Homo sapiens: one gene and its partners. The protein of the gene in region 3 interacts with the protein of the main gene of each other region in a pairwise test. Each region holds a gene or a part of one and is shown on either strand. Other genes may lie near its edges.

The links.
Region 1: the proteins of ZMYND12 (region 3) and ARHGAP8 interact in binary tests that used the Homo sapiens proteins (3 or more experiments, as listed by UniProt).
Region 2: the proteins of ZMYND12 (region 3) and NUDT22 interact in binary tests that used the Homo sapiens proteins (3 or more experiments, as listed by UniProt).
Region 4: the proteins of ZMYND12 (region 3) and TSSK3 interact in binary tests that used the Homo sapiens proteins (3 or more experiments, as listed by UniProt).

What each region holds. Positions count from the first base shown.
Region 1 is NC_000022.11:44,748,677-44,755,589, reverse strand, and holds the start of ARHGAP8 (rho GTPase-activating protein 8), read right to left. Parts: upstream 3,016-6,913; 5' UTR 2,963-3,015; intron 1-2,962.
Region 2 is NC_000011.10:64,221,786-64,229,275, forward strand, and holds the start of NUDT22 (uridine diphosphate glucose pyrophosphatase NUDT22), read left to right. Parts: upstream 1-4,488; 5' UTR 4,489-4,639; coding exon of another isoform or gene 4,640-4,642; exon of another isoform or gene 4,643-4,849; coding exon of another isoform or gene 4,850-4,867; coding exon 4,868-5,347; intron 5,348-5,615; coding exon of another isoform or gene 5,616-5,708; intron 5,709-5,782; coding exon 5,783-5,881; intron 5,882-7,360; exon of another isoform or gene 7,361-7,461; coding exon 7,462-7,490. Other genes in the region: FERMT3 (fermitin family homolog 3 long isoform), read left to right, coding at 1,263-1,404, 1,528-1,707; TRPT1 (tRNA 2'-phosphotransferase 1), read right to left, coding at 2,091-2,182, 2,315-2,425, 2,500-2,556, 2,758-2,932, 3,010-3,185, 3,714-3,795, 4,001-4,075. UniProt on the Homo sapiens protein: Hydrolyzes UDP-glucose to glucose 1-phosphate and UMP and UDP-galactose to galactose 1-phosphate and UMP. Preferred substrate is UDP-glucose.
Region 3 is NC_000001.11:42,446,016-42,453,040, forward strand, and holds part of ZMYND12 (zinc finger MYND domain-containing protein 12), read right to left. Parts: intron 4,045-7,025; coding exon 3,903-4,044; intron 2,624-3,902; coding exon 2,452-2,623; intron 1-2,451. UniProt on the Homo sapiens protein: Required for sperm flagellum function and male fertility.
Region 4 is NC_000001.11:32,358,437-32,364,830, reverse strand, and holds TSSK3 (testis-specific serine/threonine-protein kinase 3), read right to left. Parts: upstream 2,293-6,394; 5' UTR 2,130-2,292; coding exon 1,985-2,129; intron 1,237-1,984; coding exon 575-1,236; 3' UTR 519-574; downstream 1-518. Other genes in the region: protein FAM229A, read left to right, coding at 2,740-2,873, 2,955-3,101, 3,296-3,398. UniProt on the Homo sapiens protein: Serine/threonine protein kinase required for spermatid development and male fertility.

The DNA of each region.
Region 1 (6,913 bases), on a different chromosome or scaffold from region 3:
ACTCCGGAGCAGCGCGCTCTCCTGCAGCTAAGTCCCACAGTGCAGGGCCCAGAGGCTCTCCCCTCAAATGCACCCCAGGGAGGCCTGGGAAGCATCTGGACACACGTGATGCATCTTCCTTGAGCATCAGTTTTAATTAAAGGACCAAGGGGTAAAAGTTAAATAATTTGGAAAGAAATGGAAAACGTCTATTTTCTCTCCCCATGCTAATTTCACATAGATTTGAAGGGTAGTCACCGGCAGGCTCCGAATGGCTCCATCTTACACCAGACACCAGCTCCCATGTGGGAGGCACACCTCAGTGCCCAGGGAGGTGGCTCAGCACAGTGTGTGTGGGAGGAAGGTGGGGACACGGGGAACACTGTAGCTGCAGCACCGCTGGCTTCCAAGCCTGGCTCTCTAATCACTAGCCATGGGACCTTAACCTTCCTTGTCTGTTTCCTCATCTGTGAACGGGGCAGTAACAGTCCGTGCCTCCTGATGTGAGCAAGGAGTCAGGCAGCCAAGTGTGCAGTGAGGGTTTCATGGCCATTTGGTGACCACCATCGCAGTGGGGAAGGACAGCCAATAGCTCCTTTTGCAGATGAGGAGGCTGAGTGCCCCAGAAGGAGAGTGACCTGCCTAAAAACCAGGTCTGCTGACTCCTTCTCCATCTCTTTCTCACCCTCATGCTGCCTGTGCCTCAGTTTCCCTATCAGTGAAATGAGGGTAAAATCAGGGAATGGGATGGGTTTTTTTTAATGTGGTGAAACATACTGTCAGGCACCTCCAGGACCTGAGTTCCTTGCTCTCGTCTCTTTAACCGAAGCCGCCTTTAACTCCATCGTTTACAGTGTGCCCATGAATAGCTCAGCCTAGAACTGGCTTGTTAGGCAGATGGCATGATGTCCCAGGCATGTTTAAGTCAAGTAAGTTTCAATGACTCGGCCGGGTGTGGTGGCTCATGCCTGTAATCCCAGCACTCCAAGCACTTTGGAAGGCCAAGGCAGACAAATCGTCTGAGGTCAGGAGTTTGAGACCAGCCTGCCTAACATGGTGAAACCCCACTTCTACTAAAAATACAAAAATTAGCTGGGTGTGGTGGTGGGCGCCTGTAATCCTAGCTACTCTGGATGCTGAGGCACGAGAAGCACTTGAACCAAGGAGGCAGAGGTTGCAGTGAGCTGAGATCGTGCCATTGCACTCCAGCCTGGGCGACAAGAGCGAAAACTGCGTCACACACACACACACACACACACACACACACACACAAAGTTTCAATGACCCAATGATGTTATCCAAGTAAATTGGCCCACCCCGTCAGGCACTCCATGGACTTTTCCACCCGTACCTCACAAGCGAAGTATCCCTAGCCAGTAGGTGCCATTCTCTTCCCCATCCACCTCCCATCCACCTTCCAGCTCAATGGCCACCTCCTCCAGGAAGCCCTTCCTAAGCTCCCACAAACCCTTGGATTCTCTCTACACAGAAGCCAGACTCTGGGCCCCTGAGGGCAGGGACCAGGCAGCTGGCTGTCCACAAGAATCAGCTGGGCTCAGGCCCACATCCCATGTCCCTCTTCGCCCTACCCCCAACTCTGGCGTTGGTTTGGGGAATGGTTAGTCAGTGAATCGAATGAGGAGTCCACAAACATGATCCTAAAGCTGCCAACAGAGAGGCCAACCAAAGGACATCGACTTCTGAAACGGCTGAGTCTTAAGCATTGAGTTCTCAGCTGGACAAATGCCAACACTGCATTTCACAGGCAAGCGAGGGACGGCACAGAGCTCTCTGGAATCTACACAGCCTCTGTCACAAAACCCTGAAGTCGGTGGCCAAGGTGCTGTCCCCATCCCGCCAAACAATCCCACCCTCCTTCCCGGGTGGACTCTGCGGTTCCTTCTCCGGGGCCTTCACACTCCTCCCAAGGCAGCGGAGAAATTTCCAAGTCAGGGTGTGGCAGAGCCCGAGGGATTCTCAGGAGCCCCCCCACCCCCCACAGGATTGAGGGAAAGTGAAAGGCAGGGCCTCCCTGCCTTCCTGACGACCTCCGAGGCTGCTAGCGGATTGGTTTAAACTTTGGGCTTTTAGGCCGGGCGCGGTGTCTCACGACTGTAATCCCAGCACTTTGGGAGGCCCAGGAAGACGGATCACCTGAGGTCAGGTGGTCGAGACCAGCCTGGACAACATGGTGAAACCCTGTCTGTACTAAAAATACAAAAAATTAGCTGGCATGGTGTCAGTCCCTGTAATCCCAGCTACTCGGGAGGCTGAGGCACAAGAATCGCTTGAACCCAGGAGGCGGAGGTTGCAGTGAGCAGAGATGCAACACTGCAATCCAGCCTGGGGACAGAGCAAGACTCGGTGTCAAAAAAAAAAAAAAAAGTTTCTGCTTTTAACTCCCGGGGGGTTCCACCGCTGTGTGTTGAACCGGCCAGCCCCCCACCCCCTGAGTTTGAATCAGCGCAGCACCTGCCCCGGCCTCCGTTTTCTCATCTATGAAACGGGAATGACCTCACCCACCTTGTAGGTTTGGGGTGTGTGGGGGCGGGGGAGGTGCCTCCCCCAGGCGCTGACCCGACCTAACCTGAGACCCCAGGACGGAAGCAAAAAAGGAACATTTGAGCTGACACCGTCCGGCCAGACCAGACCAAAACGCAGGCTGAGAGAGGCGAGGGCGGGGAAGGCGGTGCGGGGTGAGAAGGAACAGGACAGGGGAAAAAGCAGAGGAGGGGAGTGTGGGGGGGCGGGAAAGAAAGGAGGTGAAGGGAGAGGGAGTCTAGAACCCACAGGGGACCCGGAGGCTGCGCGCCGGCCGGAGGGTCTCCCCCCGGCCGCACGTGGCGTCGCGCCCGCCTGGGCGTCCCTACCCGGCCAGCGGCCCCTTGTCCCCGTACACGCCCTGGGAGCCCCCGCGGCGCACCCCCCCACCCCGAGCACGGCCTCCTCCCTGCGCGCTCCCTCCCGCCGCCGCCCGCCTTACCTGGCCACGGACCCCGCCGGCCCCCACCTGCGTGCCGGGTCTGCCGCTCACCTGGCCCCTCCCCGGACGTGGCTCCCGGGCAGGCCCCGCCCCCCCGCCCCTCCGCCCAGCCCCGCCCCTCCGCCCCTGCTACCCGGCGGGAGCCATTTCCCAGGTGCACGAGCTGACCCTGGGTCCACCTGTGTGTCGGGGGGACAGGGCGGGGTCGGGCGGAGCACACGCGCTCAGGAGCCCCTCGCACATCGCACCCTGGGCACCCCGATTCCCGGCTGGGCCGCGTCCCCGTCCCGCACGGCACCCATGCCTGGGGCGGGCACTTTCTTGCTGATCCATTTCCCCATTTCTTATTTTATTTATTCATTATTTTACTTTATGTATGTATGTATTTATTTATTTATTTTGAGACGGAGTCTCGCGCTGTCGCCCAGGCTGGAGTGCAGTGGCGCGATCTCGGCTTACTGCAGCTTCAACCTCCCGAGTTCAAGCGATCCTCCCACCTCAGCCTTCATAGTAGATGGGATTACAGACGTGCGCCGCCAAGCCCGGCTAAGTTTTGTATTTTTAGTGGAGACCGGGTTTCACCATGTTGGCCAGGCTGGTCTCGAACTCCCAACCTCAAACGATCCTCCCGCCTCCACCTCCCAAAGTGTTGAAATTACAGGCGTGAGCCACTGCGCCGGGCCCCATTTTTAATTTTACTTTTTTGAGACAGGGGTCTCGCTCTGTTCAGGCTGGAGTGCAGTGTCTTGAACTTGGTTCACTGCAGCCTCTACCTCCTGGATTCAGGCGATCCTCCGGCCTCAGCTTCCCGAGTAGCTGGGACCGCAGGTGTGCACCACCATACCCAGCTAATTTTTGTAGTTTTTGTAGAGACAGGAGTCTTGCCATGTTGTCCAGGCTGGTCTGGAACTCCTGGGCTCAAGTGATCCACCCTCCTCAGCCTCTCAAAGTGTTGGGATTACGTGCCTGAGCTACTGCACCTGGCCCCTTTCGTTAGGGGTGTACAAAGCGTGGCAGAACTGGGAGAATTGGAGGGACTTGAGAGGAAATTTTCCCTAGGGTTTGTTGAAGGATTTGTATCTGAGGAAAGCAGCTTAGATACAACAAAATATATCAGGCCCAGAGAAACAGTAGTATAGGACTTCAGTCCAGGTCCCCCTGCAGTGCTTGGGGGGCCATAGTTTTTTGTTTGTTTGTTTGTTTTTTGTTTTTGTTTTTAGAGTCTTGCTTTGTTACCCAGGCTGAGAGTGCAATGGCGCGATCTCAGCTCACTGCAACCTCCACCTCCTGGGTTCAGGCAATTCTCCTGCCTCAGCCTCCCAAGTAGCTGGGATTACAGGGGCCTGCCACCATGTCCAGCTAATTTTTTGTATTTTTGGTAGAGACGGGGTTTCACCATGTTTGCCAGGCTAGTCTTGAACTCCTGACCTCAAGTGATCCACTCACCTCGGCCTCCCAAAGTGCTGGGATTACAGGCATGAGCTACCGCACCCGGCCGTGGGGGCCATGGTTTAAAGGCATTTTGTTCCTGACTCACTGCCTCACCCATTATCTGCATGTTCCTGCAACTTGTGATACAGAGAAAAATGTGTAGCCAATCAACAACTTATTATTTTTATTTTTATTTTAGATTCAAGGGGTACATGTGCAGGTTTGTTAGGGGATATATTGGGTGACACTGAGGTTTGGTTTTCTGTTGATCTCCTTACCCAGGTAGTGAGCACAGTACCCAATAGGAAGTTTTTCAGCCCTTGCCCTACTCCCCCCACCCTTCTGGAGTCCCCAATGTCTTTTGTTCCCATCTTTATATCTGTGGGTACCCAAGGTTTAGCTCCCCCTTAGAAGTGAGACATGTCATATTTGGTTTTCTGTTTCTGCATGAATTCACTTAGGATAATGGCTTCCAGCTGCATCTATGTTGCTGCAAAGGACAAGATTTCATTCTTTTTCATGACTGCATAGTATTCCATGTTGGAAATGTACCACATTTTCTTTATCCAATCCACTATTGATGGGCACCTCAGTTGACCCCATATCTAACCTATAGTGAATAGTGCTGCTATGCACATATGAGTGCAGATGGCTTTTTGGTAGAAAGATTTCTTTTCTTTTGGGTGTGTACCCACTAACGGGATTGCTGGGTTGAAGGGTAGTTCTATTTTAAGTTCTTTGAGAAATCTCCAAGCTGCTTTCCACAGTGGCTGAACTAATTTACATTCCCACCAACAGTGTATAAGTATTCCCCATTCTTTGCAGCCTTGCCAATATCTCCTATTTTTTGACTTTTTAATAACAGCCATTCTGTCCAAAATCAAGATGCTGGCAGAAAAAATAATAATAATAATAGCCATTGACTGATGTGAAATGGTTTCTCCTCGTGGTTTTGATTTGCATTTCTCTGATGATTAGTGATGTTGGGCATTTTTTCATGTTTGTTGGCTGCTTGTATGCGTGTATGTCTTCTTTTGAGAAGTGTCTGTTCATGTCTTTTGTTCTTTGTTTTTTTTGAGACAGAGTCTTGCCCTGTCACCTAGGCTGGAGTGCAGTGGCGCCATCTCGGCTCACTGCAACCTCCTCCCCTGGGTTCAAGCAATTCTCCTGCCTCAGCCTCCCAAGTGGCTGTGATTACAGACACACGGTACCACACTCAGCTAATTTTTGTACTTGTAGTAGAGATGGGGTTTACCATGTTGGCCAGGCTGGTCTCAAACTTCTGACCTCAAGGGATCTGCCTGCCTGGGCCTCCCAAAGCGCTAGGATTACAGGCATGAGCCACCGTGCCTGGCCCCTTGCCCACTTTTTAATAGGATTATTTTATTCTTGTTGATTCATTTAAGTTCCTTATTGTTTCTGTATATTAGTCCTTTGTCAGCTGCATAGTTTGCAAATATTTTCTCTCATTCTATAGATTGTCTGTTTACTCTGTTGATAGTTTCTTTTTGCTATGCAGAAGCTCTTTAGAACAATTTACTTTTTTTTTGTTTGTTTGTTTTTGTTTTTTTTTGAGACAGAGTTTCGCTCTTGTTGCCCAGGCTGGAGTGCAATGGCTCAATCTTGGCTCACTGCAACCTCTGCCTGCCGGGTTCAAGCAATTATCCTGCCTCAGGCTCTCAAGTAGCTGGGATTACAGGCACCCGCCACCATGCTCGGCTAATTTTGTATTTTTAGTAGAGACAGGGTTTCACCATGTTGTCCAGGCTGGTCTTGAACTCCTGACCTCAGGTGATCCACCCACCTTGGCCTCCCAAAGTGCTGGGATTACAGGCATGAGTCACTGCACCTAGCCAATTTATGTTATTTTAATGTAAATTCTTGGTAAACAATTTAGGAACTGCCTCTTCTTTTCCTTCAAAAACCTACTTGTAACTGTTGCTAATCACAGTGAATATTCAGGGCAACTTGAATGTATACTCCCAGGTTGCAGTCCTCAAACTTGACCCAAATATATTCTTTTTTTTTTTTTTTTTTTTTGAGACAGAGTTTCGCTCTTGTTGCCCAGGCTGGAGTGCAATGGCGTGATCTCGGCTCACTGCAACCTCCGCCTCCTGGGTCCAAGTGATTCTCCTGTCTCAGCCTCCCAAGTAGCTGGGATTACAGGCATGCGCCATCACGCCCAGCTAATTTTGTATTTTTGGTAGAGACGGGGTTTCTCCATGTTGGTCAGGCCGGTCTCGAACTCCAGACCTCAGGTGATCTGCCTGCCTCGGCCTCCCAAAGTGCTGGGATTACAGGTCTGAGCCACCGCGCCCAGCCCCCAAATATACTCTTACTTGTATTGATTTTGCCTCGGTTTTTTCCTTTGGATCAACGACTCCCTGCCACAATGATTATTTCAGGTTCTGGAAGGAACTGGGCCTGTGCCAGTCACCCCAGGCCTTCCTCCGGCCACAGTGAGCAGTTCAGGTCAGAGTAACTGGACTTTGCCTGGATGGCTGGGGCTTATTGTGCCCT
Region 2 (7,490 bases), on a different chromosome or scaffold from region 3:
GTGTGGTGGCACGCACCTGTAGTCCCAGCTACTCAGGAGACTGAGGCAGGAGAATCCCTTGAACCCAGGAGGCAGAGGTTGCAGTGAACTGAGACCATGCCACTGCACTCCACGCTGGGTGACAGAGCGAAACTCTGCCTCCAAAAAACAAAACAAAACAAAAAACAAATAGGCGGGGCACGGTGGTTCACGTCTGTAATCCTTGCACTTTGGGAGACCGAGGCGGGCAGATTATTTGAGGTCAGGAGTGTGAGACCAGCCTGACCAACATGGTGAAACCCTGTATCTACTAAAAATACAAAAATTAGCCGAGTGTGGTGGCAGGCGCCTATAATCCCAGCTACTCGGGAGGCTGAGGCAGGAGAATGTCTTGAACTCGGGAGGTGGAGGTTGCAGTGAGCCGAGATTGTGCCACTGCACTCCAGCCTGGGTGCGAACGAGTGAGACTCAGTCTCAAATAAATAAATAAATAAATAAATAAATAAATAAATAAATAAAAGAGCCTGCGCGATGGCTCATGCCTGTAATCCCAGCACTTTGGGAGGCCAAGGCAGGCAGATCATGAGGTCAGGAGTTCGAGACCAGCCTGACCAACATGGTGAAACCCCGTCTCTACTAAAAACACAAAAATCAGCCACAAGTGGTGGCACGTACCTGTAATCCCATGTACTCGGGAGGCTGAGACAGGAGAATCACTTGAACCCGGGAGGCGGAGGTTGCAGTGAGCCGAGATCGAGCCACTGTACTCCAGCCTGGCAACAAAGCGACACTCCGTCTCAAAAAAAAAAAAAAAAAAAAAAGAGATTTCAGGTCAGGAGAGCAGAAGAACCAGTTCTTGCTCCAGCTCTGCTGTGGACAGTTCACTGTCTGGGCCTGGGTTCGCCGGTCCGCAAGACAGGGCTAGCGGTGGATGCTGTTATGGGGAGTGGGCCCCTTTGATTAGTTGTTTCCCAAGACTGCAAAGAAGGGAGGGAGACAGCAGTTGATGAGGATGGTAACAAAAACCAAAAAAAGTTACCATTTAAAGGCTTGGCCTGTTTGCCCGATGCTGCTAAATGCTGTTGTGGGGATTTTATCAATTAACCCCCATTTACCAGATGAGGAACTTGAGGCCCAGGGAACCCAAATGGCTTGCTCAGGGTTACACAGCTGGTGAGCTGCAGTCGGGAAGGGCTGGCTCTCCAGCACGGCGCCACATTGTCTGGGCGGGCTCTGGCCATGCAGGGTGGAGCCCTGGCTCACTCTCTCTCCCTGGGGGCCAGGTTCAAGGGCAGCAGGAAAGACGAGATCCTGGGCATCGCCAACAACCGACTGATCCGCATCGACTTGGCCGTGGGCGACGTGGTCAAGACCTGGCGTTTCAGCAACATGCGCCAGTGGAATGTCAACTGGGACATCCGGCAGGTGGGCCCAGACCCAGGGTATATGGATGGGGGACAGGTGCAGGCCGGAGCTGGATCCAGCCAGGGTGGGGCAGGGGCTGCTCCCTTATCCCACCCACCATTTGCCCCTCTGTCTGCCCTTCAGGTGGCCATCGAGTTTGATGAACACATCAATGTGGCCTTCAGCTGCGTGTCTGCCAGCTGCCGAATTGTACACGAGTATATCGGGGGCTACATTTTCCTGTCGACGCGGGAGCGGGCCCGTGGGGAGGAGCTGGATGAAGACCTCTTCCTGCAGCTCACCGGGGGCCATGAGGCCTTCTGAGGGCTGTCTGATTGCCCCTGCCCTGCTCACCACCCTGTCACAGCCACTCCCAAGCCCACACCCACAGGGGCTCACTGCCCCACACCCGCTCCAGGCAGGCACCCAGCTGGGCATTTCACCTGCTGTCACTGACTTTGTGCAGGCCAAGGACCTGGCAGGGCCAGACGCTGTACCATCACCCAGGCCAGGGATGGGGGTGGGGGTCCCTGAGCTCATGTGGTGCCCCCTTTCCTTGTCTGAGTGGCTGAGGCTGATACCCCTGACCTATCTGCAGTCCCCCAGCACACAAGGAAGACCAGATGTAGCTACAGGATGATGAAACATGGTTTCAAACGAGTTCTTTCTTGTTACTTTTTAAAATTTCTTTTTTATAAATTAATATTTTATTGTTGGATCCTCCTCCTTTCTCTGGAGCTGTGCTTGGGGCTACTCTGACACTCTGTCTCTTCATCACCAGCCAAGGAAAGGGGCTTTCCTGATAAAGACAAGAGTTGGTTAGAGAAAGGGACACCTAAGTCAGTCTAGGGTTGGAAGCTAGGAGAGAGGTGAGGGCAGAAGGGCACAGCTTTCAGGAACAAGGAATAGGGGCTGGGGTGGTGGTTCTCACGGGTAGGGCGTAGCTGCAGGGCCTCCTTGAAGTACTTGGGAAGGAGGAAGCCATCAGTATTCCCTGGAGTCAGAATCACCCCATTGGCAGAGCGGAAGAAGGGTATTCCATCTGCTGACAGAGCCAGAGATGTGACTCATGCCCTCCCCGAAGGCAAGGGCAGCTCCTGCTTTGTCCAGACTCACCTGCCAGAGCCAGGGGTCCATCGATGAACACAGCTATTTCACAATGGGACCGCATGCCTGCAGAGACAGCTGGAGCTGAGGCCTGGGCACCTGGAGTGCAGTCAGCAACCTAGGCAGACTGGGGTCCTGGGCTGGGGGATGCAGGGGTGCTGCTCCATGCCGGACATGGGGTGGCCCCAGACAAGTGTTGTAACCTTTGAAGGGGACCTGGGAGGACAGAGTGGGTGGGAGTAGCTAGGTGGAGGGGAGGGCACTGACCACTGATGATACCGGGGTCTCCAGGCAGTCCTGGGGCCAGGTGAATGTGCGTCCTTCCCTGGCAGGACAGGCCTTTGAGTAGGATGGATGGCCAGTGCTTCCAGAATGTACCATGGACTAGCATCGGGGGCAGGGCCTGCGGTGTCTCCAGGGGCATCAGCTCCAACTTAGGTACCTGGTTGAACGGGTAGCAGTGAGACCCCCTTCGCAGGCAGGGGTCCCTCCCATCTCGTCTCGCACTTGTCCCCTCACCCCGACCTGCAGGGAATGGCCCTGGTTGGCCCGGATGAGAAGGCCAGTGCTGGGATCCCCCAGCTGCAGGGCGAACCGCTGCTTCCTATTGGTGTCCACCACGCGCTGCACATCTTCAGCAGAGAAGCCGCGGAACTGGGGCAACTGCAGGAGGGTGCCCAGGGGCACGAAGCCATCTGTGGGCAGGCAGGGTGCTCAGGAGCTAACCTTGCTCTGGACTGGGCCAGGGTTAACAGGGAGCCACAGGCAACCGAAACAAAGTCTGGGCTTGGAGATCGCTTGGGCATCCTCTGTGGGACCTTTAGAAAGTCTCCCCTTTCTGGGCCGCAGTTTTTTCAACTTACATAAAAAGAGGATCTGCCTCACGGAGGGGCAGGGAGGTGAGTGCCCAGCATAGCGCTGGCCCGGAGTGCACACTCACACCACCAGCTGCACCGTATCCTCCAGGGCTCGCCCTCGGGGTAAGTGCTGATCTGGCTGCTTGGCTGGAGGGGGCGGTCACCAGGCCTGGCCCAGACAAGAACTCTCCTCAGTCTGCTGTGGACATGACAGGGGCTCTAGGCCTTGCTCTCCTCTGTGCATGGGGAGGAAGTGCACTCTGTGCCTTCCTCAGGGAGCGGTGGAGGCAGCCATCAGGGAGGAGTCGCAGACAGGCTCACGTTTCTCTCTGGGCTCAAGCCCCAGCCTCCAAGGCCCCTACTTACCAGCTCCCATGGGAAGCCCCAGCTTCAAGGCCCCATGGCGCAGGGCATAGGACAGAGCCTTGGACAGCTGCACGTCTCGGTCCTGAAAGAACCCAGCGGTGGCCCCTAGTCTCCATGGTGACCCTGCCCTACTGCCCATCCTGAACCCTCAATGACCCACTGCAGAGAGAGCCCAGAGAGAAAGGAGTGCCAGTGGTCTCCAGGAATAGTAGGACCCTTCAGCTCCGCCCCCCAGCAACTCCCAGGGAGCCTGGACTGGTGGGAGGGGGTGGGGAGGAGGCGCGCACCTGTTCTCGGGGTCTGGGAGCCCTTCTACCCCTGGACCCTGCTGCTTCCTGCCTCCCTCCTCCAGAGAAGTTCATGGTTAAGACCTGTGGGGGGCAGTGACGAGGGGGGACTGCTTTAAGGCCCCTTCCACGTCCCCATCCCTCCCAGAAAGTCACAAAGCCTCAGGAAGTGAGCGCTGGGTGGGAGTATACGGCTCATTAAGTTCACCACCCCCAAGTCCCTGCTGCAGAGAGGGAAACTAAGGCCCAGCAGGCCAGACTTGCCCAAGGTCACACGGTCAGCCAGGAGCGCAGGGAGGCCGAGCCCCGCACCCCAGATCGCTGGTGCGCCCCGCAGGGTGGTCCGGGAGGCAGGGCCGACGTGCCGACGGACCGGGCGGAAGCGTCGGGGCGGCGGGGACAAACCTCCAGGATCCTCGACCGCGGCGGACCCGCCAATGAAAAGCCGCGTGGAAAGGGGGCGGGCACTTCCGCTTCGGGGAAGGGGCGGAGCCTGAGGGACCCGGCGGCTGGTGAGCGCCCGCTGGAGGCTGGAGCTTCCGGGCCCTGGAAAGGGGTCCCCGCGCGCCCCGGGTCGGAGGCAGACCCCTGGGTTTGGGGGACATGGGCATTTGGGGCGCCTGAACCCAAGACCTCTGGATGGTAGGGATGCCCGGGCGTCCTGGATACCCTGCGGGACTCGGGGCTCCTGCGGGGAAGATGGCACGTTTTACTGCCCAAGGAGTGGTCAGGGGGGTGGAGAAGCGCTGCGGATACCCTCAGGAGGTCTGCGACAGAGGGGGCTAGCTGCGCAGCCCAGGAGTGGTAGTGGCCCCCCTGGATGACAGGCCTGGCCGTATCCTCCCCCAGAGCTGCCCCGTTCAGACCATGGATCCTGAGGTGACCTTGCTGCTGCAGTGCCCTGGCGGGGGCCTGCCCCAGGAGCAGATACAGGCCGAGCTGAGCCCCGCCCATGACCGTCGCCCACTGCCAGGTGGGGACGAGGCCATCACTGCCATCTGGGAGACCCGGCTAAAGGCCCAACCCTGGCTCTTCGACGCCCCCAAGTTCCGCCTGCACTCAGCCACCCTGGCGCCTATTGGCTCTCGGGGGCCACAGCTGCTCCTGCGCCTGGGCCTTACTTCCTACCGAGACTTCCTGGGCACCAACTGGTCCAGCTCAGCTGCCTGGCTGCGACAGCAGGGTGCCACCGACTGGGGTGACACGCAGGCCTATCTGGCGGACCCACTGGGGGTGGGCGCTGCACTAGCCACAGCCGATGACTTCCTTGTCTTCCTGCGCCGCTCCCGGCAGGTGGCTGAGGCCCCTGGGCTGGTGGACGTACCTGGTGGGCACCCTGAGCCTCAGGTGAGATTCCAGGCTGGGCACAAAGACCCAGACAGCTCAAGGGAGCTGCAGCTCTCCACCCTCCCAATCCTCCCAGCTTTGGTTTCCTCATTCCTTAAAGGGAAAATTGGCCTGGTATTTCTCTGGAAGTTTGCTCAGGGCAGTCCACCTGCCTCCCCACTGACCCCTGCCCCAGTCCTGTGAGAAACTAGAAAACACGGGAGGAAAGATTGGGCACAGGAAGAAGATGCCCTACTCCACCCCTGCCCCCTGTGTATCTCCTTTGAAGCTGGACCTCTGGTTGTCTGTCAGGGAAAGGACACCAGACTCAGGATCACTAACTCTCTTACACTGTGCCACATCAGACCCTCAAGGCCAGCAGGTATAGGCTTGCTGGTCCTGAGATGGGGCAGGGGGAAGAGGTGGGGAGCAGGGGCTGAGCCTGACCTCTCACAGGCCCTGTGCCCTGGTGGCAGCCCCCAGCACCAGGACCTCGCTGGGCAGCTGGTGGTACATGAACTCTTTTCCAGTGTCCTTCAGGAGATCTGTGATGAGGTGAGTGAGGTTGACCTGGACAGGGTGGTAGACATGAAGGGAGGGGGTAGGACTTGCCAGAATTCTACAGGTCTGGGCTGGCAGGAGGCCTGCAGGCATCTGGCCAGCAATGAGGGAAGAAGTTGGCTTTGCAGCTATACATACTTGGAGTGGAATTCTAGCCCTCAGTACCCTCTGCCTTGGATTCTTCTTCTTTTCTTTTTTCTTTCTTTTTTTTTTTTTAGACAGAGTCTCGCTCTGTTGCCCAGGCTGGAATGCAGTGGCACGATCTCTGCTCACTGCAAGCTCCACCTCCCGGGTTCACGCCATTCTCCTACCTCAGCCTCCTGAGTAGCTGGGACTACAGGCATCCGCCACCATGCCTGGCTAATTTTTTTTGTATTTTTAGTAGAGATGGGGTTTCACCTTGTTAGCCAGGATGGTCTTGATCTCCTGACCTCGTGATCTGCCTGCCTCAGCCTCCAAAAGTGCTGGGATTACAGGTGTGAGCCACTGCACCAGGCCGGATTCTTCTTCTTTTTTTTTTTTTTCTTTTTGAGACAGAGTCTTGCTCTGTTGCCCAGGCTAGTGCAGTGGTGGCATATCGGCTCACTGCAACCTTCGCCTCCTGGGTTCAAGTGATTCTCATGCCTTGCCCCGCCAAGGATTCTTCTTTTCAATGGAAACAATGATAAATATCTTGCCTACTCCCCAAGTCTGTTGAAAAAGGAGTAAGTGGCCGGGCGCCGTGGCTCATGCCTGTAATCCCAGCACTTTGGGAGGCTGAGGTGGGCAGATCACAAGGTCAGGAGATCAAGACCATCCTGGCTAACACGGTGAAACCCTGACTTTACTAAAAATACCAAAAGTTAGCCGGGCGTGGTGGCGGGCACCTGTAGTCCCAGCTACTCAGGAGGCTGAGGCAGGAGAATGGCGTGAACCCGGGAGGCGGAGGTTGCAGTGAGCCGAAATCGCGCCACTGCACTTCAGCCTGGGCGACAAAGCGAGACTCCGTCTCAAAAAAAAGAAAAAGGAGTAAGTGTGGCAGGGTGTGGTGGCTCACACCTGTAATCCCAGCACTTTGGGAGGCCAAGGCCAGCGGATCACCTGAGGTCAGGAGTTCGAGACCAGCCTGGCCAACATGGAGAAACCCCATCTCTACTAAAAATACAAAAAATTAGCCAGGCGTTGTGGCGTGCACCTGTAATCCCAGCTACTCAGGAGGCTGAGGCAGGAGAATCACTTTAACCTGGGAGGCAGAGGTTGCAGTGAGCTGAGATCGTGCCACTGTACTCCAGCCTGGGCGACAGAGCGAGACTCCATCTCAAAAAAAGAAAAAAAGAAAAAGGAGTAAGTGGGAGTCCCAGTCACTAAATTGACTTCTCTTGGGTGACCTTGGGCAACGTGTTCAATCTCTCTGGTTTTGGTGTACCTGTAAAACAAACATGCCCATCATCTGACATTCTGTAATGCTGGGTCCTTGATCTACAAGCTATAAAATGCTGTACACAGGTAACAGGCGGTTTTTCATTGAGACGGGCAGGGATGTGGGCAGTGGCATTGATAGGTGGGACCTCCCCCCACCCCACCCTCCACCGCAGGTGAACCTGCCGCTGCTCACCCTGAGCCA
Region 3 (7,025 bases):
ACCTGGGCAGGGTGAGCAGGGCATTCCTGCAGGCAAACAGCCTGTTATGGGGAGTTGGAACCCACACAAGTGAGGAGGGATCCATGCAGCAGAGGCAGCCTGGAATGGGGAGTCAGGGCCCATGGAGCGGGAAGAGGTATCTATAAGGTGGAAAGGACGGAGTTAGAGAGCGGGGATTGATTCATACAGGGGAACTCATTAATATGTAAATAAACCAATGAAAGTGAAAGCTGTCAGCAAAGGGAGTTGCAATTAAGGAATGGAAGTAAATCAGATTGAACCCTATGGTGCTGTATTAGATCTGGATCAAACAGTATAGACTAGTGGTCATAGAGATATTGATGTAGATATATAGATACAGGCCAGACACGGTGGCTCATACCTGTAATCCCAGCACTTTGGGAAGCTGAAGCAGGTGGATCACTTGAGGACAGGAGTTCAAGATCACAAACATGGTGAAACCCCGTCTCTACTACAAATACAAAAATGAGCCAGGCGTGGTGGCACACACCTGTTGTCCCAGCTACTCGGGAGGCTGAGGCAGGAGAATTGCTTGAACCAGGGAGGTGGAGGCTGCAGTGAGCTCAGATTGCGCCACTGCACTCTAGCCTGGGTGACAGAGTGAGACTCGGTCTCAAAAAAAAAAAAAAGATATATAGATATAGAAATAAATACAGATGTAATGTGTGTATACGTACACCCATTATTATATTTACACTTACTCCCTAACTCCACTGAGAAGGCCTGGGAGCAGTAATACCCCAAAAGCATGAGTACATCTAGTGCACAGCTTTTGGCTTCTGATTTTCACTTTCCACTGAAAGAGATCAGGGCTCTTTAGAGGTATGTTCCAGAAAGCAGTCAAGTGAGCAAAGAACAAATGGGGTTGTATCTGGGAGATGCAGAAGCCAGCTTGAGTGGGGTTTGTCACTGGTCAAATCAGGGACAGTTTGAGGATCAAATTAACGATAGTAATGGATTTAAGCCCATTGAATAAAGATAAAATACTGATACAAATAACTAAATGAATACATTGAAAATTCGATGAGGAATGGGATATTTATATAGTTTCAAAGGACGTATCCATGAAATGAAAATTAAAGTTATTAATTACAGAAGGGTGAAAGAGTAACATTACAGGGAGGAAGACTGGCAGACGCCATCCTAATAAAGTAATTAAAATGAACATCATCAGTAATGAAAAAAATGAAAACATGCCAGTTTATAGGATGGGATGAGAACACAGCATCACCTCTGTACTGTTTTTGCCAAAAATCCATAACGTGAGTCCCATCATTAGGAAATATCAGACAAACTCAAATTGAGAAATGTTTTATACAATTGGCCTGTAACCTGTAAAAGTGTCAAGATCATAAAAGTCAAGAAAAGGTTGAGAAACTATTCCAGAGTTTTGTTGCCAACACATGGCAACAAAATGAAAAGTGTGACCCTGAACTGTATCCTTTTGCTATAAAGATGTTATTGGGAAAATTCGAGAAACTTGAATGGGGTCTTCTTAGATGACAGGGTCCCCTTGTGTGGTTCCCACAAAGACATTCTCCTTCATAACCACAATACAATATATCTCATTTACTAAGGGGACACTGAAGTATTCTAAGGATAGGGAATCAGGTGAACAACTTACTCTCAGAGAACTCAGGGGATAAAAGTTCTTTATATTGTACTTAATTTTAACAGTTTTACTTTTAAAAAAGTTTTACTTTTAAAAAAGTATTTTTTTAATGGTGGCTATTAAAACATATGAAGCATTTTTTTAAATGGTGGCCACCATGTAGGGTATCTGCTAAGTCTGCTCTATACTCTCAGAATTGCCTCTCCCATCTATAGGGGTGGGTTCCTGTATTTCTGAACTATGTGGCTCTGATCCCAGGGAATAAAGGTGGATTCCACACTCAAGCCATGTCAACAAAATTCTGTCTTCTACGAATTTGTATTTGGAAATCAGAAGCTAATTAGTTTCTACTGCCTACTTCAAACCTAGAAAACACGTAAACTGAAAAACTCCATCTGACATTTTGGGGTAGCTGTCTTCTACAGTGAGCATAGGGTAGACAAATCTGGTCTGCAGAGAGGGAAAATAGCAAAGCAGATAGATACCCAGAGAGAAGTAGATACAGGAGACAAGGCCCAAGAGAGAACGAAAGGCACTCCAATTCTAGTCCCTCATGAAGCCTCAGCTCCTGTAGGATACTACAGCACCCGCACAAAGTTCCTCCTTTTTGTGCAGGCCAGCTTGAGTGGATTTCTGCCAGTTGTAGACAAAAGTCTGTGACATCTCCTTCCCTACCTTGTGCTAAACTTTACAGCAACCCTGCTCCTTCTACAATAGGTCTCTTGGTGCCACTGTCAAGGGTGACTCTTTGATCATTGGTGTGACCCAAACATAACACCACTTAAGGGATCCAAGGATCTCAAGTCGGTTTCACTCACCAAGGCTGGCCTCGGCCAACAGCAGGTAAGCAGGCACAAGCTCTACGGAGCTCAGGCCATACAGCTTCACACGGAAGCGAAGGGACTGCAAAGCTGCTGGTACAGCATCTTCGTGTTTCCCTTCAAAGAGGTATTTCTGGGCTATGGTGTAGCAGAATTCAATCAAATACTTCTGTGGAAGAGAGAAACAGACTATCTGAGACAGTCTAAAGTTAAAGGCAAAGGTGGATGTAGATGGCCCTGGGGATAAGGCCAACACCTAATGACCCAGTTAAAGGCACATAGTGAGCCTGCCTGTATTAGAGTGGACGTGAAGCCCCACATAAGTGATATAAGAAAGCAAACTCTGGACTATGAGTTCCTTAAGGCCCAGGAACATGTGTATTTTCATCTTAGTTCAGCGCTTGGCATAGATGAATGCTCAATATAGAGTTATCAGATGAATAAATGAGTATTGTTTTTACAGTTCTAATAAAACTTTACTTTAGCAAAGCTAGCATGTCTCAGGACAATCTGAAACTTTCTGCCTTCCTAGTTGAGTTAATTTTGAGAGAAACATCTCATTTTCCCTTCCAGAATTATCCTGTTTAGCTAATATCACAAAAAACTTTAACTCTGCATTGTTCTAAGGCCACTATCAAAGTGTCATAACACTAAAATGGATGGATCTTATGTTTAGAGATTTATGGCTTATAATAAGGGGCTAATTTTTTAGAGTGATTGAGATGCTCAATACTCAATAATACTCAACACTATACATAATAATAGTGGCAGGTTTTGGTAACCTCCTTTATTTATTCAGTAGTATATCCATACATCATTCTTAACCCTCCTATTATGTGGCCAGACTCTTGGCATCTGTGGATGTTATGGGCTGAACTGTGTCCCCTGCCAAAATTCATGTGTTGAAGCCCTATCCTGCAGTCTGTCACATGACTATAATTGGAGCTAGGGCCTGTAGAGTGGTGATTAAGTTAGAATGAGGCCATTAGGGTGGGCCCTAACCTAATCTGACTTGTGTCTTTATAAAAAGAGGAAATTGGACACACAAAGAGATACCAGGCATGCTTGCACACAAAGGACCATGTGAAGACACTGTAGGAAGGCAGCCATCTGAAAGCCAGGAAGAGAGGCCTCAGAAGAAACCAAACCTGCTGACCCCTTGATCTTGGACTTCCCAGCCTCCAGAGCTGTGAGGAAATAAATGTATGCTGTTTGAGCCACCCAGTTTGTGATATTTGATTGTGACAGTGCTAGCAGACTAATACAGTAAGTATTTAGTAAATGTGGAAAACAACAGACTGGATGGTGTTGAGGACTTAAAAAGATATAAAACAAAGTCTCTGCCCTCCGTGAGGTTACAATTTAGTGATCCCAACACAGTTCGAGCCTTGTCTTGGGCAGCTTCACCGCACCTACGACTTAACCTTGGAAAGTGCCGTAGGCCCTACCTGCCGCTGCTGCAGCTGCTGCAGGCCATGCTGCCGTTCTTCCTCTGAATTGTAGAAGGGCATGGAAGTGCGCAGTGGAATCAAGAGCTGACATATTTTCTCATGGATGCTGTCCCAGTCAGCCTTCTGATGTACCACCCCACTGACAACGGAAACATAGACTTTATGATCTTTATATTTGGCATGACTTAAGATTCCATTAACCCTCCTACTGGCCTATCCCTAGACACCAGAAAAGTAAGCCAAATACAAACCAGGCAGGGAGCTCAAAGCCATTTCTGAGACTCAAATCTCTTTCCTTTCATGTGGTTATTTGATGATGTATAAACTGTGTTGGGATTGGAGAGTATGTTGTTTCTGCAGGCACACATTCACATTCTGAAGTCACACAGGGATGCTGGCATGCAATTGCTCATAGTGTTCTCTTATAATCTCTTTTATTTCTGCAAGGTTGGTAGTAATGTCCTCACTTTCATTTCTGATTTTAGTAATCTGAATCTTCTTTTCTAGGCCAGTCAACCTAGCTAAAGGTTTGTCAATTTTGTTGGTCTTTTCAAGGAGCCAACTTTTGGTCTCATCAGTTCTCTCTGTAGTTTCTTTATTCTCTGTTTTATCTCTGCTATAATCTTTAATTTTCCTTTCTTCTGCTAGCTTGTGTCTATACCCAACACAGGGCTGTGCATAAAGGAGTTTATAAATATGTTTTAGTTTGCTCTTCTTTTTCTAGTTTCTTAAGATGAAATGCTAGGTTACTGATTTGAGATCTTCTTTTCAATGTAATGTATATTAGTATAAATTCATATGAGTACTAAATTCATACAGTAACCTCTGAGTACTGCTTTGCCAGCATCTAAGTTTTAGTATGTTGTTTTTGTTTTCATTTATCTCAAAGCATTTTCTAATTTCCTTTGTAATTTCTTCTGTGACTCATTGGTTAAGAGTGTGTTATTTCTACATATTTGTAAATTTACCAAATTTCCTTGTTATTGACTACTAATTTCATTCCATGTAGGTGGAGAACATACTCTGTATGAAATCAATCTCTATAAATTTATTGAGATTTATTTTATGGTCTAATATATGTTCTATCCTGAATAATGTTCTATACGCACTAGAGAAGAATAGGCATTCTCATGTTATTGAATGGTGTTCTACAGATACCTGTTAGGTCTAGTTGGTTTATAGCGTGATTCAAGTCTTATATTTCCTTGCTGATCTGTCTAATTGTTCTATGCATTACTGAAAGTGGGATATTTGATCTTCTATCTAGTTGTTCTATTCATTACTGAGAGTGGGATACTGGATCTTTCATCTAGTTGTTCTGTTCATCACTGAAGGTAGGATATTGAAGTCTTCAACCATTATTATTAAATTGTCTATTTTTCTCCCCAGTTCTGTCTGTTTTTGCTGCATGTATTTTGAGGCTCTGTTGTTAGATGCATAGTCATGGGTTTTTGCATTTCTATTGCTTATTACACATTTTCACTTAAATGTAAGTTAACTGTTTGATTCCATTTATACATATTTCAAAACAGGTAACAATAATCTAGAGGAGGGATCAGAAAAGCTTTTCTGTAAAGGGTCAGATAAATATTTTAGGCTTGAGAGCTATAGGATCTCTGTTGCAACTACTCAACTCTGCTGTTGTAGCACAAAAGCAGCCACAGACAATATATAGCCATGTTCAAGCACCTTCTTGGACAATATTGCCACCTTCTTGGACAATAGAAATGCAATTAAAGTATATTCTTTACAAGTTGTGACTGCTACCAAAGAAATGACAGAAACCATTTAAAATGTTTTTGGGGAGGTAGAGAATTATTATAAACAGATCAATAAAAGCACTTAGCCAGGATATAGCTGAGTTCCACAGGGAATTTATCAAGTGGGGCTTGTAAGCAATGGAAATGTTAACTTAGATGCCTGAACTTTTGTTCCACTGAGAGCCACTAACATATCTTGCCTTTCTAAATAAAGTGAGCTTTATTTATATATTTGCGGGCTCCCTGCTTATTGATCTGTCCCACCTGTAACACCTAACACAGGGTCAGGGATAAAGTAGGAATGGATAAATGCTTTCAATCAGGGCTCACAATTAAGTAGCTTGTGAGCCACATGTTTTGTTTGGCTATTATCATGTTTTTTTTTAAGCTGAATTTGAATATCTTTAGGTAGGGCATTCATTCTACAATTCACCACTGATCCTATAGCTTCCTATTATTGAATACCACTTCACTGTTTGTTTTCTTAGTGATCTGCAATATTTTTTGCAATAATTTTTCCTTTTGTTTGACATATGAAGCGCAAATTTAAATGCCGTCACTGGCCAGGAGAAGAAAACGAATGGTGAAGTGGTATTCAAGAACAGGAAGCAATAGTATTTGTAGTGAATTACAGAATGTACGCCCTGACTAAAGACATTTAAATTCATGCAAACCTATGGTACTGAAGTCTCTTTTACTTGTCACCAATGTTTTAGTATGTACTTCCATAAAATTACCTTTTCTTAAAAATGTTCTACTGTCCTGTAATCCCAGCACTTTGGGAGGCCGAGGAGGGCGGATCACAAGGTCAGGAATTCGAGACCAGCCTGACCAATATGGTGAAACACCGTCTCTACTAAAAATACAAAAAAATTAGCCAGGCGTGGTGGCGCATCCCTGTAATCCCAGCTACTTGGGAGGCTGAGGCAAGAGAATTGCTTGAACCCGGGAGACAGAGGTTGCAGTGAGCCAAGATGGTGCCACTGCGCTCCAGCCTGGGTGACAGAGCAAGACTCCGTCTCAAAAAAATAATAAAAAAATAAAAGTTCTACTGTGTCTCTAAAGTAAATAAAAATGTGCTATTCTCTGAGAATGGTCATAATCCACTATAGAGCAATATGCACAAGATTACACACAATATATAAAATAAATGTATTCAGAGAAAAGAAGGAAATTCACCAAAATTTCAGGTTATTAATCCCTGGGTTGTGGGACTATGGCTTATTTTTCTTCTTGATTTTTTATATTTTCAGGTTTTCTGCAGTGAGCATGAATTGCAATTATAATCAGGAAAAAAATTCTTTTGCAGAAAAAAACTTTCACAAATTCAGACTGACTTTCTTGTTCCTTAAACTTGGGA
Region 4 (6,394 bases), about 10 Mb from region 3:
GTTGCTCTTGGTCATTTTTATCCTCTCTTCCCCCTGTTTGTATATGATTCTTGGGTCTATTTTAATTAACTTTAGTATGAAAATCACTTGTCATGCCAGGCGCAGTGGCTCATGCCTGTAATCCCAACATTTTGGGAGGCCAAGGTGGGTGGATCACTAAGGTCAGGAGTTCCAGACCAGCCTGGCCAACATGGTGAAACCCCATCTCTACTAAAAATACAGAAATAGCCAGGCGTGGTGGGAGGTGCCTGTAATCCCAGCTACTGGGGAGGCTGAGGCAGGAGAATCGCTTGAACCTGGGAAGCAGAGTTGCAGTGAACTGGAATCGTGCCACTGCATTCCAGCCTGGGCGACAGAGCAAGACTCTTAAAAAAAAAAAAGGAAGTCTGAATGAGGCCCTTTGATTCCATGAAGATCTCTAAAAGGAAAGAGTAGTAGTAAGGCTGGGGTAGATGTAGGTAAGTTTTAGGATAAGTAAACTTAAAGCGTAAAATATATATCACCATTTTAGAAGCGGGTTTTTGGGTTTGCTTTCTCCCCCTACTTTATTGGAGAGCACTTGCCATTGCTTTTATCAAGTGCTTGCTAGCCATGGATGCCAACTAACTTCTTCAATTGAAGGCCGGAGGATCATATCGGGTTCCAGGAGCCTCTTGAGCAGGTCCTGGCAATCGGCCGAGATGCTCAGATGAGTGGGGAAGGACACCCCCTTCTGCTGCTGCCACAGCATCTTGGGGATGTCTGTGTCGTCAAAAGGTAGGCTGGCACAGAGCATGACATACAGGACCACACCCATGCTCCAGACATCACCTTTTTTGCTATCGTGGGGAATGCCCTGCAGCACCTCGGGGGCAGCATAGGCTGTACTGCCGCAGAAGGTCTGGCTCAGCTCCCGGTGTGACTTGGGCAACACCTTGGCAAAGCCAAAGTCAGTCAGCTTCAGGTTGAAGCCCTGCAACAAGGCGTTCTCACATTTGAGGTCCCGGTGGGCCACACCACAGCCATGGCAGTAGCGGATGGCCTCAACCATCTGACGGAAGAGGGCCTTGGCCCGGCTTTCAGGCAGTGGCCCCCCATTCAGCACGCAGTCAAAGACATCCCCTCCCTCAGCGAGCTCCATCACCAGGCAGATTTTCCCGTCGGCAGACTCCAGCATCTCATACACCTGGATGATGTTCTTGTGGTCCAGGGTACGGACGATTTGGAGCTCCCGAGGGAGGAATCTCTGGATAAACTCTGAGGAAGTAAGGGGAGGAGAGATGGGCTGGCAGATCAGAAAGGCCCACCTCCTCACACCTGTCTCCTGCCTTCCAACTTCTGCCCACCTTGTCTGGGTCTTATTTCTTGGCTTTCTTAATGGTCTTAAGTGTGTCTAGCTGCTTGGACATTGCAAAGAATGTTCACTTCTATTATTTTTGTCGTTAGTATATCATTCAAAAGAAGCACTCCCCACCAGCCTTGTGGACTGTTGTGAGCAGTCTGTGAGACTGGATATCAAGGTGCTTTAGGGACTTTTAGACAAAGCCACAGAATCACAAATTATAAGGCCTGATTTGTCCACAGGGTGGTGAGCCAGCTCCTCCCGCCACTGTCCCCTGACCCCACAATTCTTTCCATGAGCCCTGTCTTCCTTTTTCCCATCTCCACGGGCCTTGGCACCAGCCCCTGTTCTCTACCAGCCCTGGTTGTGGCCTCTGCCAGTCTCTGTTCCCCTGCCGGAAAGGAAAGCCTGGCTCAGGTTTTGCCTCTGAGGATCCTTCACCTCATGCCACTTTCATCTTGCATTCTGGGGGGGTGTAATGTTCCTGGACTCCCAGAACCCCTCTGTTCCCCACTGACCCACTCCAGAGCTGCCATCGGGCTTGCTTGGTTCCAGGCCAGCGGGAGCAGGGAATGATCGAATGATCGTTCTAACAAACAGGAGGAAGCACCCACCCACCTCAGCCAGTCCTCCCTCCTTCCCTCCAAAGGGGCCCCGGCTCACCTTCTGGCCCTCCCATCTTGTCTATAACTTTAATTGCCACTTTTCTTTGGTGTTTTTTGGAAAATGCTTCTTTGACTTTTGAGTAGGTCCCTTCCCCAATGGTCTTGCCCAGCTGGTACCCATTGGAGAGCAGAAAGTCCTCCATGCTGTCTAGCGCCGCCTTCCTATCACCCTCTCAGCTCATGCTGCCTCTGAGAGGCAGCTCTACTCCACCATCGCCCTTGGCCTGCTCCTTTTCTCCCCAAGGACTTCATCCGCAGCCGCCCCCAGCGTTAGAACATTCTCTGTCTGGACACAGCGGCGGGTGGTGGGGAGGGACAGGGCCAGACATTTTTAAACTCCGGTGCAATTGTGATGTAGATGCTGTGTGACCCTTGGCCAAAATGGGCAGTGCCCCTACCTGCCCTCACTACCACCACCAAACTCAGCCCGGATTAAGTCACCGCCGAGCCCGCCCCCGTGCCAGGCATTGAGTTGTAGTCCCGCCTGGGAGGGCGCTCCGCCGCGTCTGTGTGGACCGGGAATGCGCGGCTCCTCGGCGTGGACGCCGCCTCGCGGCGGGTTGCCCTGGCCTGCTGCGCCCCCCTCGGGTGTCCGGGGTCTGCGCGACCCCGTCTCCAGGCGCCATGGCCAGAGGCCTCCAGTCCCCGATTCTGGCCCGCGCTGAGTGCCAGGGGCGGCAGGGGGCACCGTTGGGGGTTCTCCAGTGGGAGGAACGTGCTCTGTGAGGTCAGCGCGCCGCGGCCCGGGTCACAATGCTGCCCTCCTCGACGCCCGGGCCCGGGCACGCCACAGAGACCTGCCCGGCTCCGCCTGGACCGGAGCGTTCTCCCGCGGCCAGGGCTCCGGCAGCTGCTTCTAGCCTGGGACCGGTCTCAACCGCCGGGAGGTGAGCGACGGCCCAGGGGGCGGGCGCGAGGCGGCGGCGCCCGGCGACCCGGGAGAGGCCTGACCGCCACTCCCCGCGCAGAGCGCCCCGGGGCTTGGACATGAGCGCCCAGGAGCCCCCGCAGGGTCGGAGATTCCCCATTGAGGCCGGAGACTCCCGTGGCCTTGCCGCCGCCCCCGAGTCCCAGGACAGCCCGGAGGCGGTAGCGACGGAGCACAACCCGGTCAGGTAAGGCCCGCGCCCCACCCCCGCCTCCGCCCGTCCCGCGGCCCCGCCCTCCGTCCCACTTGGCGCCCCCAGCAGTCAGGACCCCGCATCCACGTCCGGACCCCCGGGGACCCCAGGTGCACTCCCTGGGTGCGCCCCACAGGATGGGCCAAGCCCCTGCCTCAGCGGCCCCTGTCGCGCGTCAATTTCCCCAGGCCGCTTCGTCGCTGCCCTGGATGCCACTGCCTGACGCTGCTGCACGTGCCCATCGACGTCTACCTCGCCATGGGCGGGAGCCCCCGGGCCCGCGCCACGTGAGTGCGCCTGCTCCCTGCGGCTCCGCGGGAGCTGGGCGGGAACGAGGCCCCCAGCGGGCCACCACGCTGAGGTCGCATGCGCCGAGCACGAGACAATGATGCACATTTTAAAATAAAAGAATGATGCACATTTTAATAAAGCACAGCACAAACTGTTCTTTCCACTCCGGGCTGGCAGTGTATGTCTATCCGTCGGGCCCACCAGCTGCTCTGCCCAGTCCAATAACACTTTCCCTTCCGCAGCCTCCTCGTTTGGACCCAGCCTTAGGGGCCCGCCCTTCCGCCTTTCAACCTACGCCACTTCACTCCTCTCGTATCTTGCTGGTCCTGACCCCTCCTGGGCAGCCTTTCCCTTGGGCCCTGCCCTGGTCCATCTCTCTAACCCTCTGGTGATTCTCCGGTGAAATTCACATCACTGTGCTGGACCCTGGCAACCCACAGAAGCGGGGAACAGGAGGAAGAGGTGGACCGACAAGTAACATAGAATACAGCCATAGGCCACCCACACCAGGCTATCTATCTATCTTATCTATCTATCATCTATCTATCTATCTATCTATCTATCTATCTATCTATCTATCTATCTATGAGATGGAGTCTCGCTCTGTTTCCCAGGCTGGACTGCAGTGGCATGATCTCTGTTCACTGCAACCTCTGCCTCCCAGGTTCAAACAATTCTCCTGCCTCAGCCTCCCAAGTAGCTGGGACTACAGGCACCCGACCAGACCCATTTTAATCCTCTCGAGCGAGAAGTTCTGCGACAAAGTTCTGCGACTTGCTCTTTGTGGCCCTAGGTGCCTGGGACCTTCCTTATTGGAAGGGTTTGGAGCTGCCCCAGTCCATCCTGAGCCTTGGTTTCTCCCAGGACTGAAGTGATCATAAAAAGATTGGGGAAGAGGCCATTTGAAAAATGGTGGCTTGCCAGGCGCGGTGGCTCACGCCTGTAATCCCAGCACTTTGGGAGACCGAGGCAGGTGGATCACAAGGTCAGGAGTTCGAGACCAGCCTGGCCAACATGGCGAAACCCCGTCTCTACTAAAAATACAAAAATTAGCTGGGTGTGGTGGTACGCACCTGTAATCCCAGCCACTCGGGAGGCTGAGGCAGGAGAATTCCTTGAACCCAGGAGGCAGAGGTTGCAGTGAGCTGAGATCATGCCACTGCACTCCAGCCTGGGCAACAGAGCAAGACTCTATCCAAAAAAAAAAAAAAAAGAGAGAGAAAGAAAGACGTTGGTTTAACTTCCTATTTTACAGATGAGTGAACTGAGCCTTTGAGACTTACCCAAGGTCCCCCAATGAGAGTCTAGCACACTCCTCAGCATCCTGAGACCACATGACCTAAGATCTGCCCTCGGAGGGGCCCATGACAGGAAGCCTGCCTGGAGGTGCTAGTATTTAAGCTAAACAACTATTTCCTACTTTCCAATTTGGCTTTAATGAGCCCGTATATTCTACTTTCCAATTTTGTTACGGGGGGAGTGTAACCTAAAGGTCAGGTTCAGTCTCCTGTCCCCTGAGATCTAAGGACAATTGATTCAACACCCTCCTCTAATCCTCATAGGGTAGAGAAGTCCAAGCTTTCCCTAGAGCACCTTAAAATTCCACGTCACCCAAAAGGGATACCCTTCTCAGTTTCCACATAAAATGCTCTCCCAGGCAGTCCCCATGTAGGAGGCTTACTAAAAGGGCCTATTTCCTCACTGGTTTAAAAAAAAAAGGCATCAGCTGGTCTCTTTGGACTCTGCCAGCCCCCAAATAGTGAATCCTTCTCATTCTTCCTTTTTTTCCATCTCTCCCACTTCCTTCTCCTCTCTTCTCAACCCTCCTTTCCTTAAAAAAAAAAAAAAAATAGGCCAGGCATGGTGGCTCAGGCCTGTAATCCCAGCACTTTGGGAGGCTGAGGCAGGAGGATCACTTGAGCCCAGGAGTTCAAGACCAGCATGGAAAACAGCAAGATCCCATCTCTAAAAACAAAACAAAACAAAAAAACCAGGTATGGTGGCGTGTGCTTGTAGTCCTAGCTACCGGGGAGCCTGAGGCAGGAAGATTGCTTGAGCCCAGGAGTTTGACGCTGCAATGAGCCAAGGTCACACCACTGCACTCCAGCCTGAGCAACAGAGTGAGATCCTGTCTCTAAAAAAAATTAGGCTGGGCATGATGGATCACGCCTATAATCCCAGCACTTTGGGAGGCCGAGGCAGGTGGATCATGAGGTCAGGAGATGAAGACCATCCTGGCTAACATGGTGAAACCCCGTCTCTACTAAAAATACAAAAAAATTAGCCAGGCGTGGTGGCGGGAACCTGTAGTCCCAGCTACTCGGGAGGCTGAGGCAGGAGAATGGTGTGAACCCAGGAGGTGGAGCTTGCAGTGAGCTGAGATCGCACCACTGCACTCCAGCCTAGGTGACAGAGTGAGACTCCATCTCAAAAAAAAAAAAAAAATTTAGAAACCAGTTACTGCCACATCCCACGTACCTGATTTGTGAGGGATACAAAGATTCTAGACGCAGTCCTTGCCAATGGGGCTAGTTAGCTCTAGAATGTCCATGAGCAAGAGAAAGGGCATTCCCTTTGGGGAGGAAGCATTGTGGGTAAAGGCCTGGAGGCAGGAAAGTGAAGGACAATTTCAAGAAACTCAGTTCATCAATTTTCATCAACACCTTCCTGGGCCATGCCTGGTACTGAGAACCCAGCCCTGAATCTGACATCATTTTCCCTTTCAGAGCATAGAATGCAGGGGATCCAGGAATGGGTTAACAGAAGAGAAGCTGGATCAAGGAGACCTTTGCGTACCAGGTGAAGGAGTTTGAACTTTGTTCTGCAGGCAGGCAGAGCACGACAGGCTCCTACCTGGGTCACTTCATTCTCCTATTTCTCTTCTCTTCCATCCTGTTCTGTTTCTTCTTACTCCTTTCCACTGGAAGAGCCACTGGCCGAAACTAGTGCTGAGTTCAAGTCCTAACTCTGCTGTTTCTCTAACTGTGCAGTCTTGA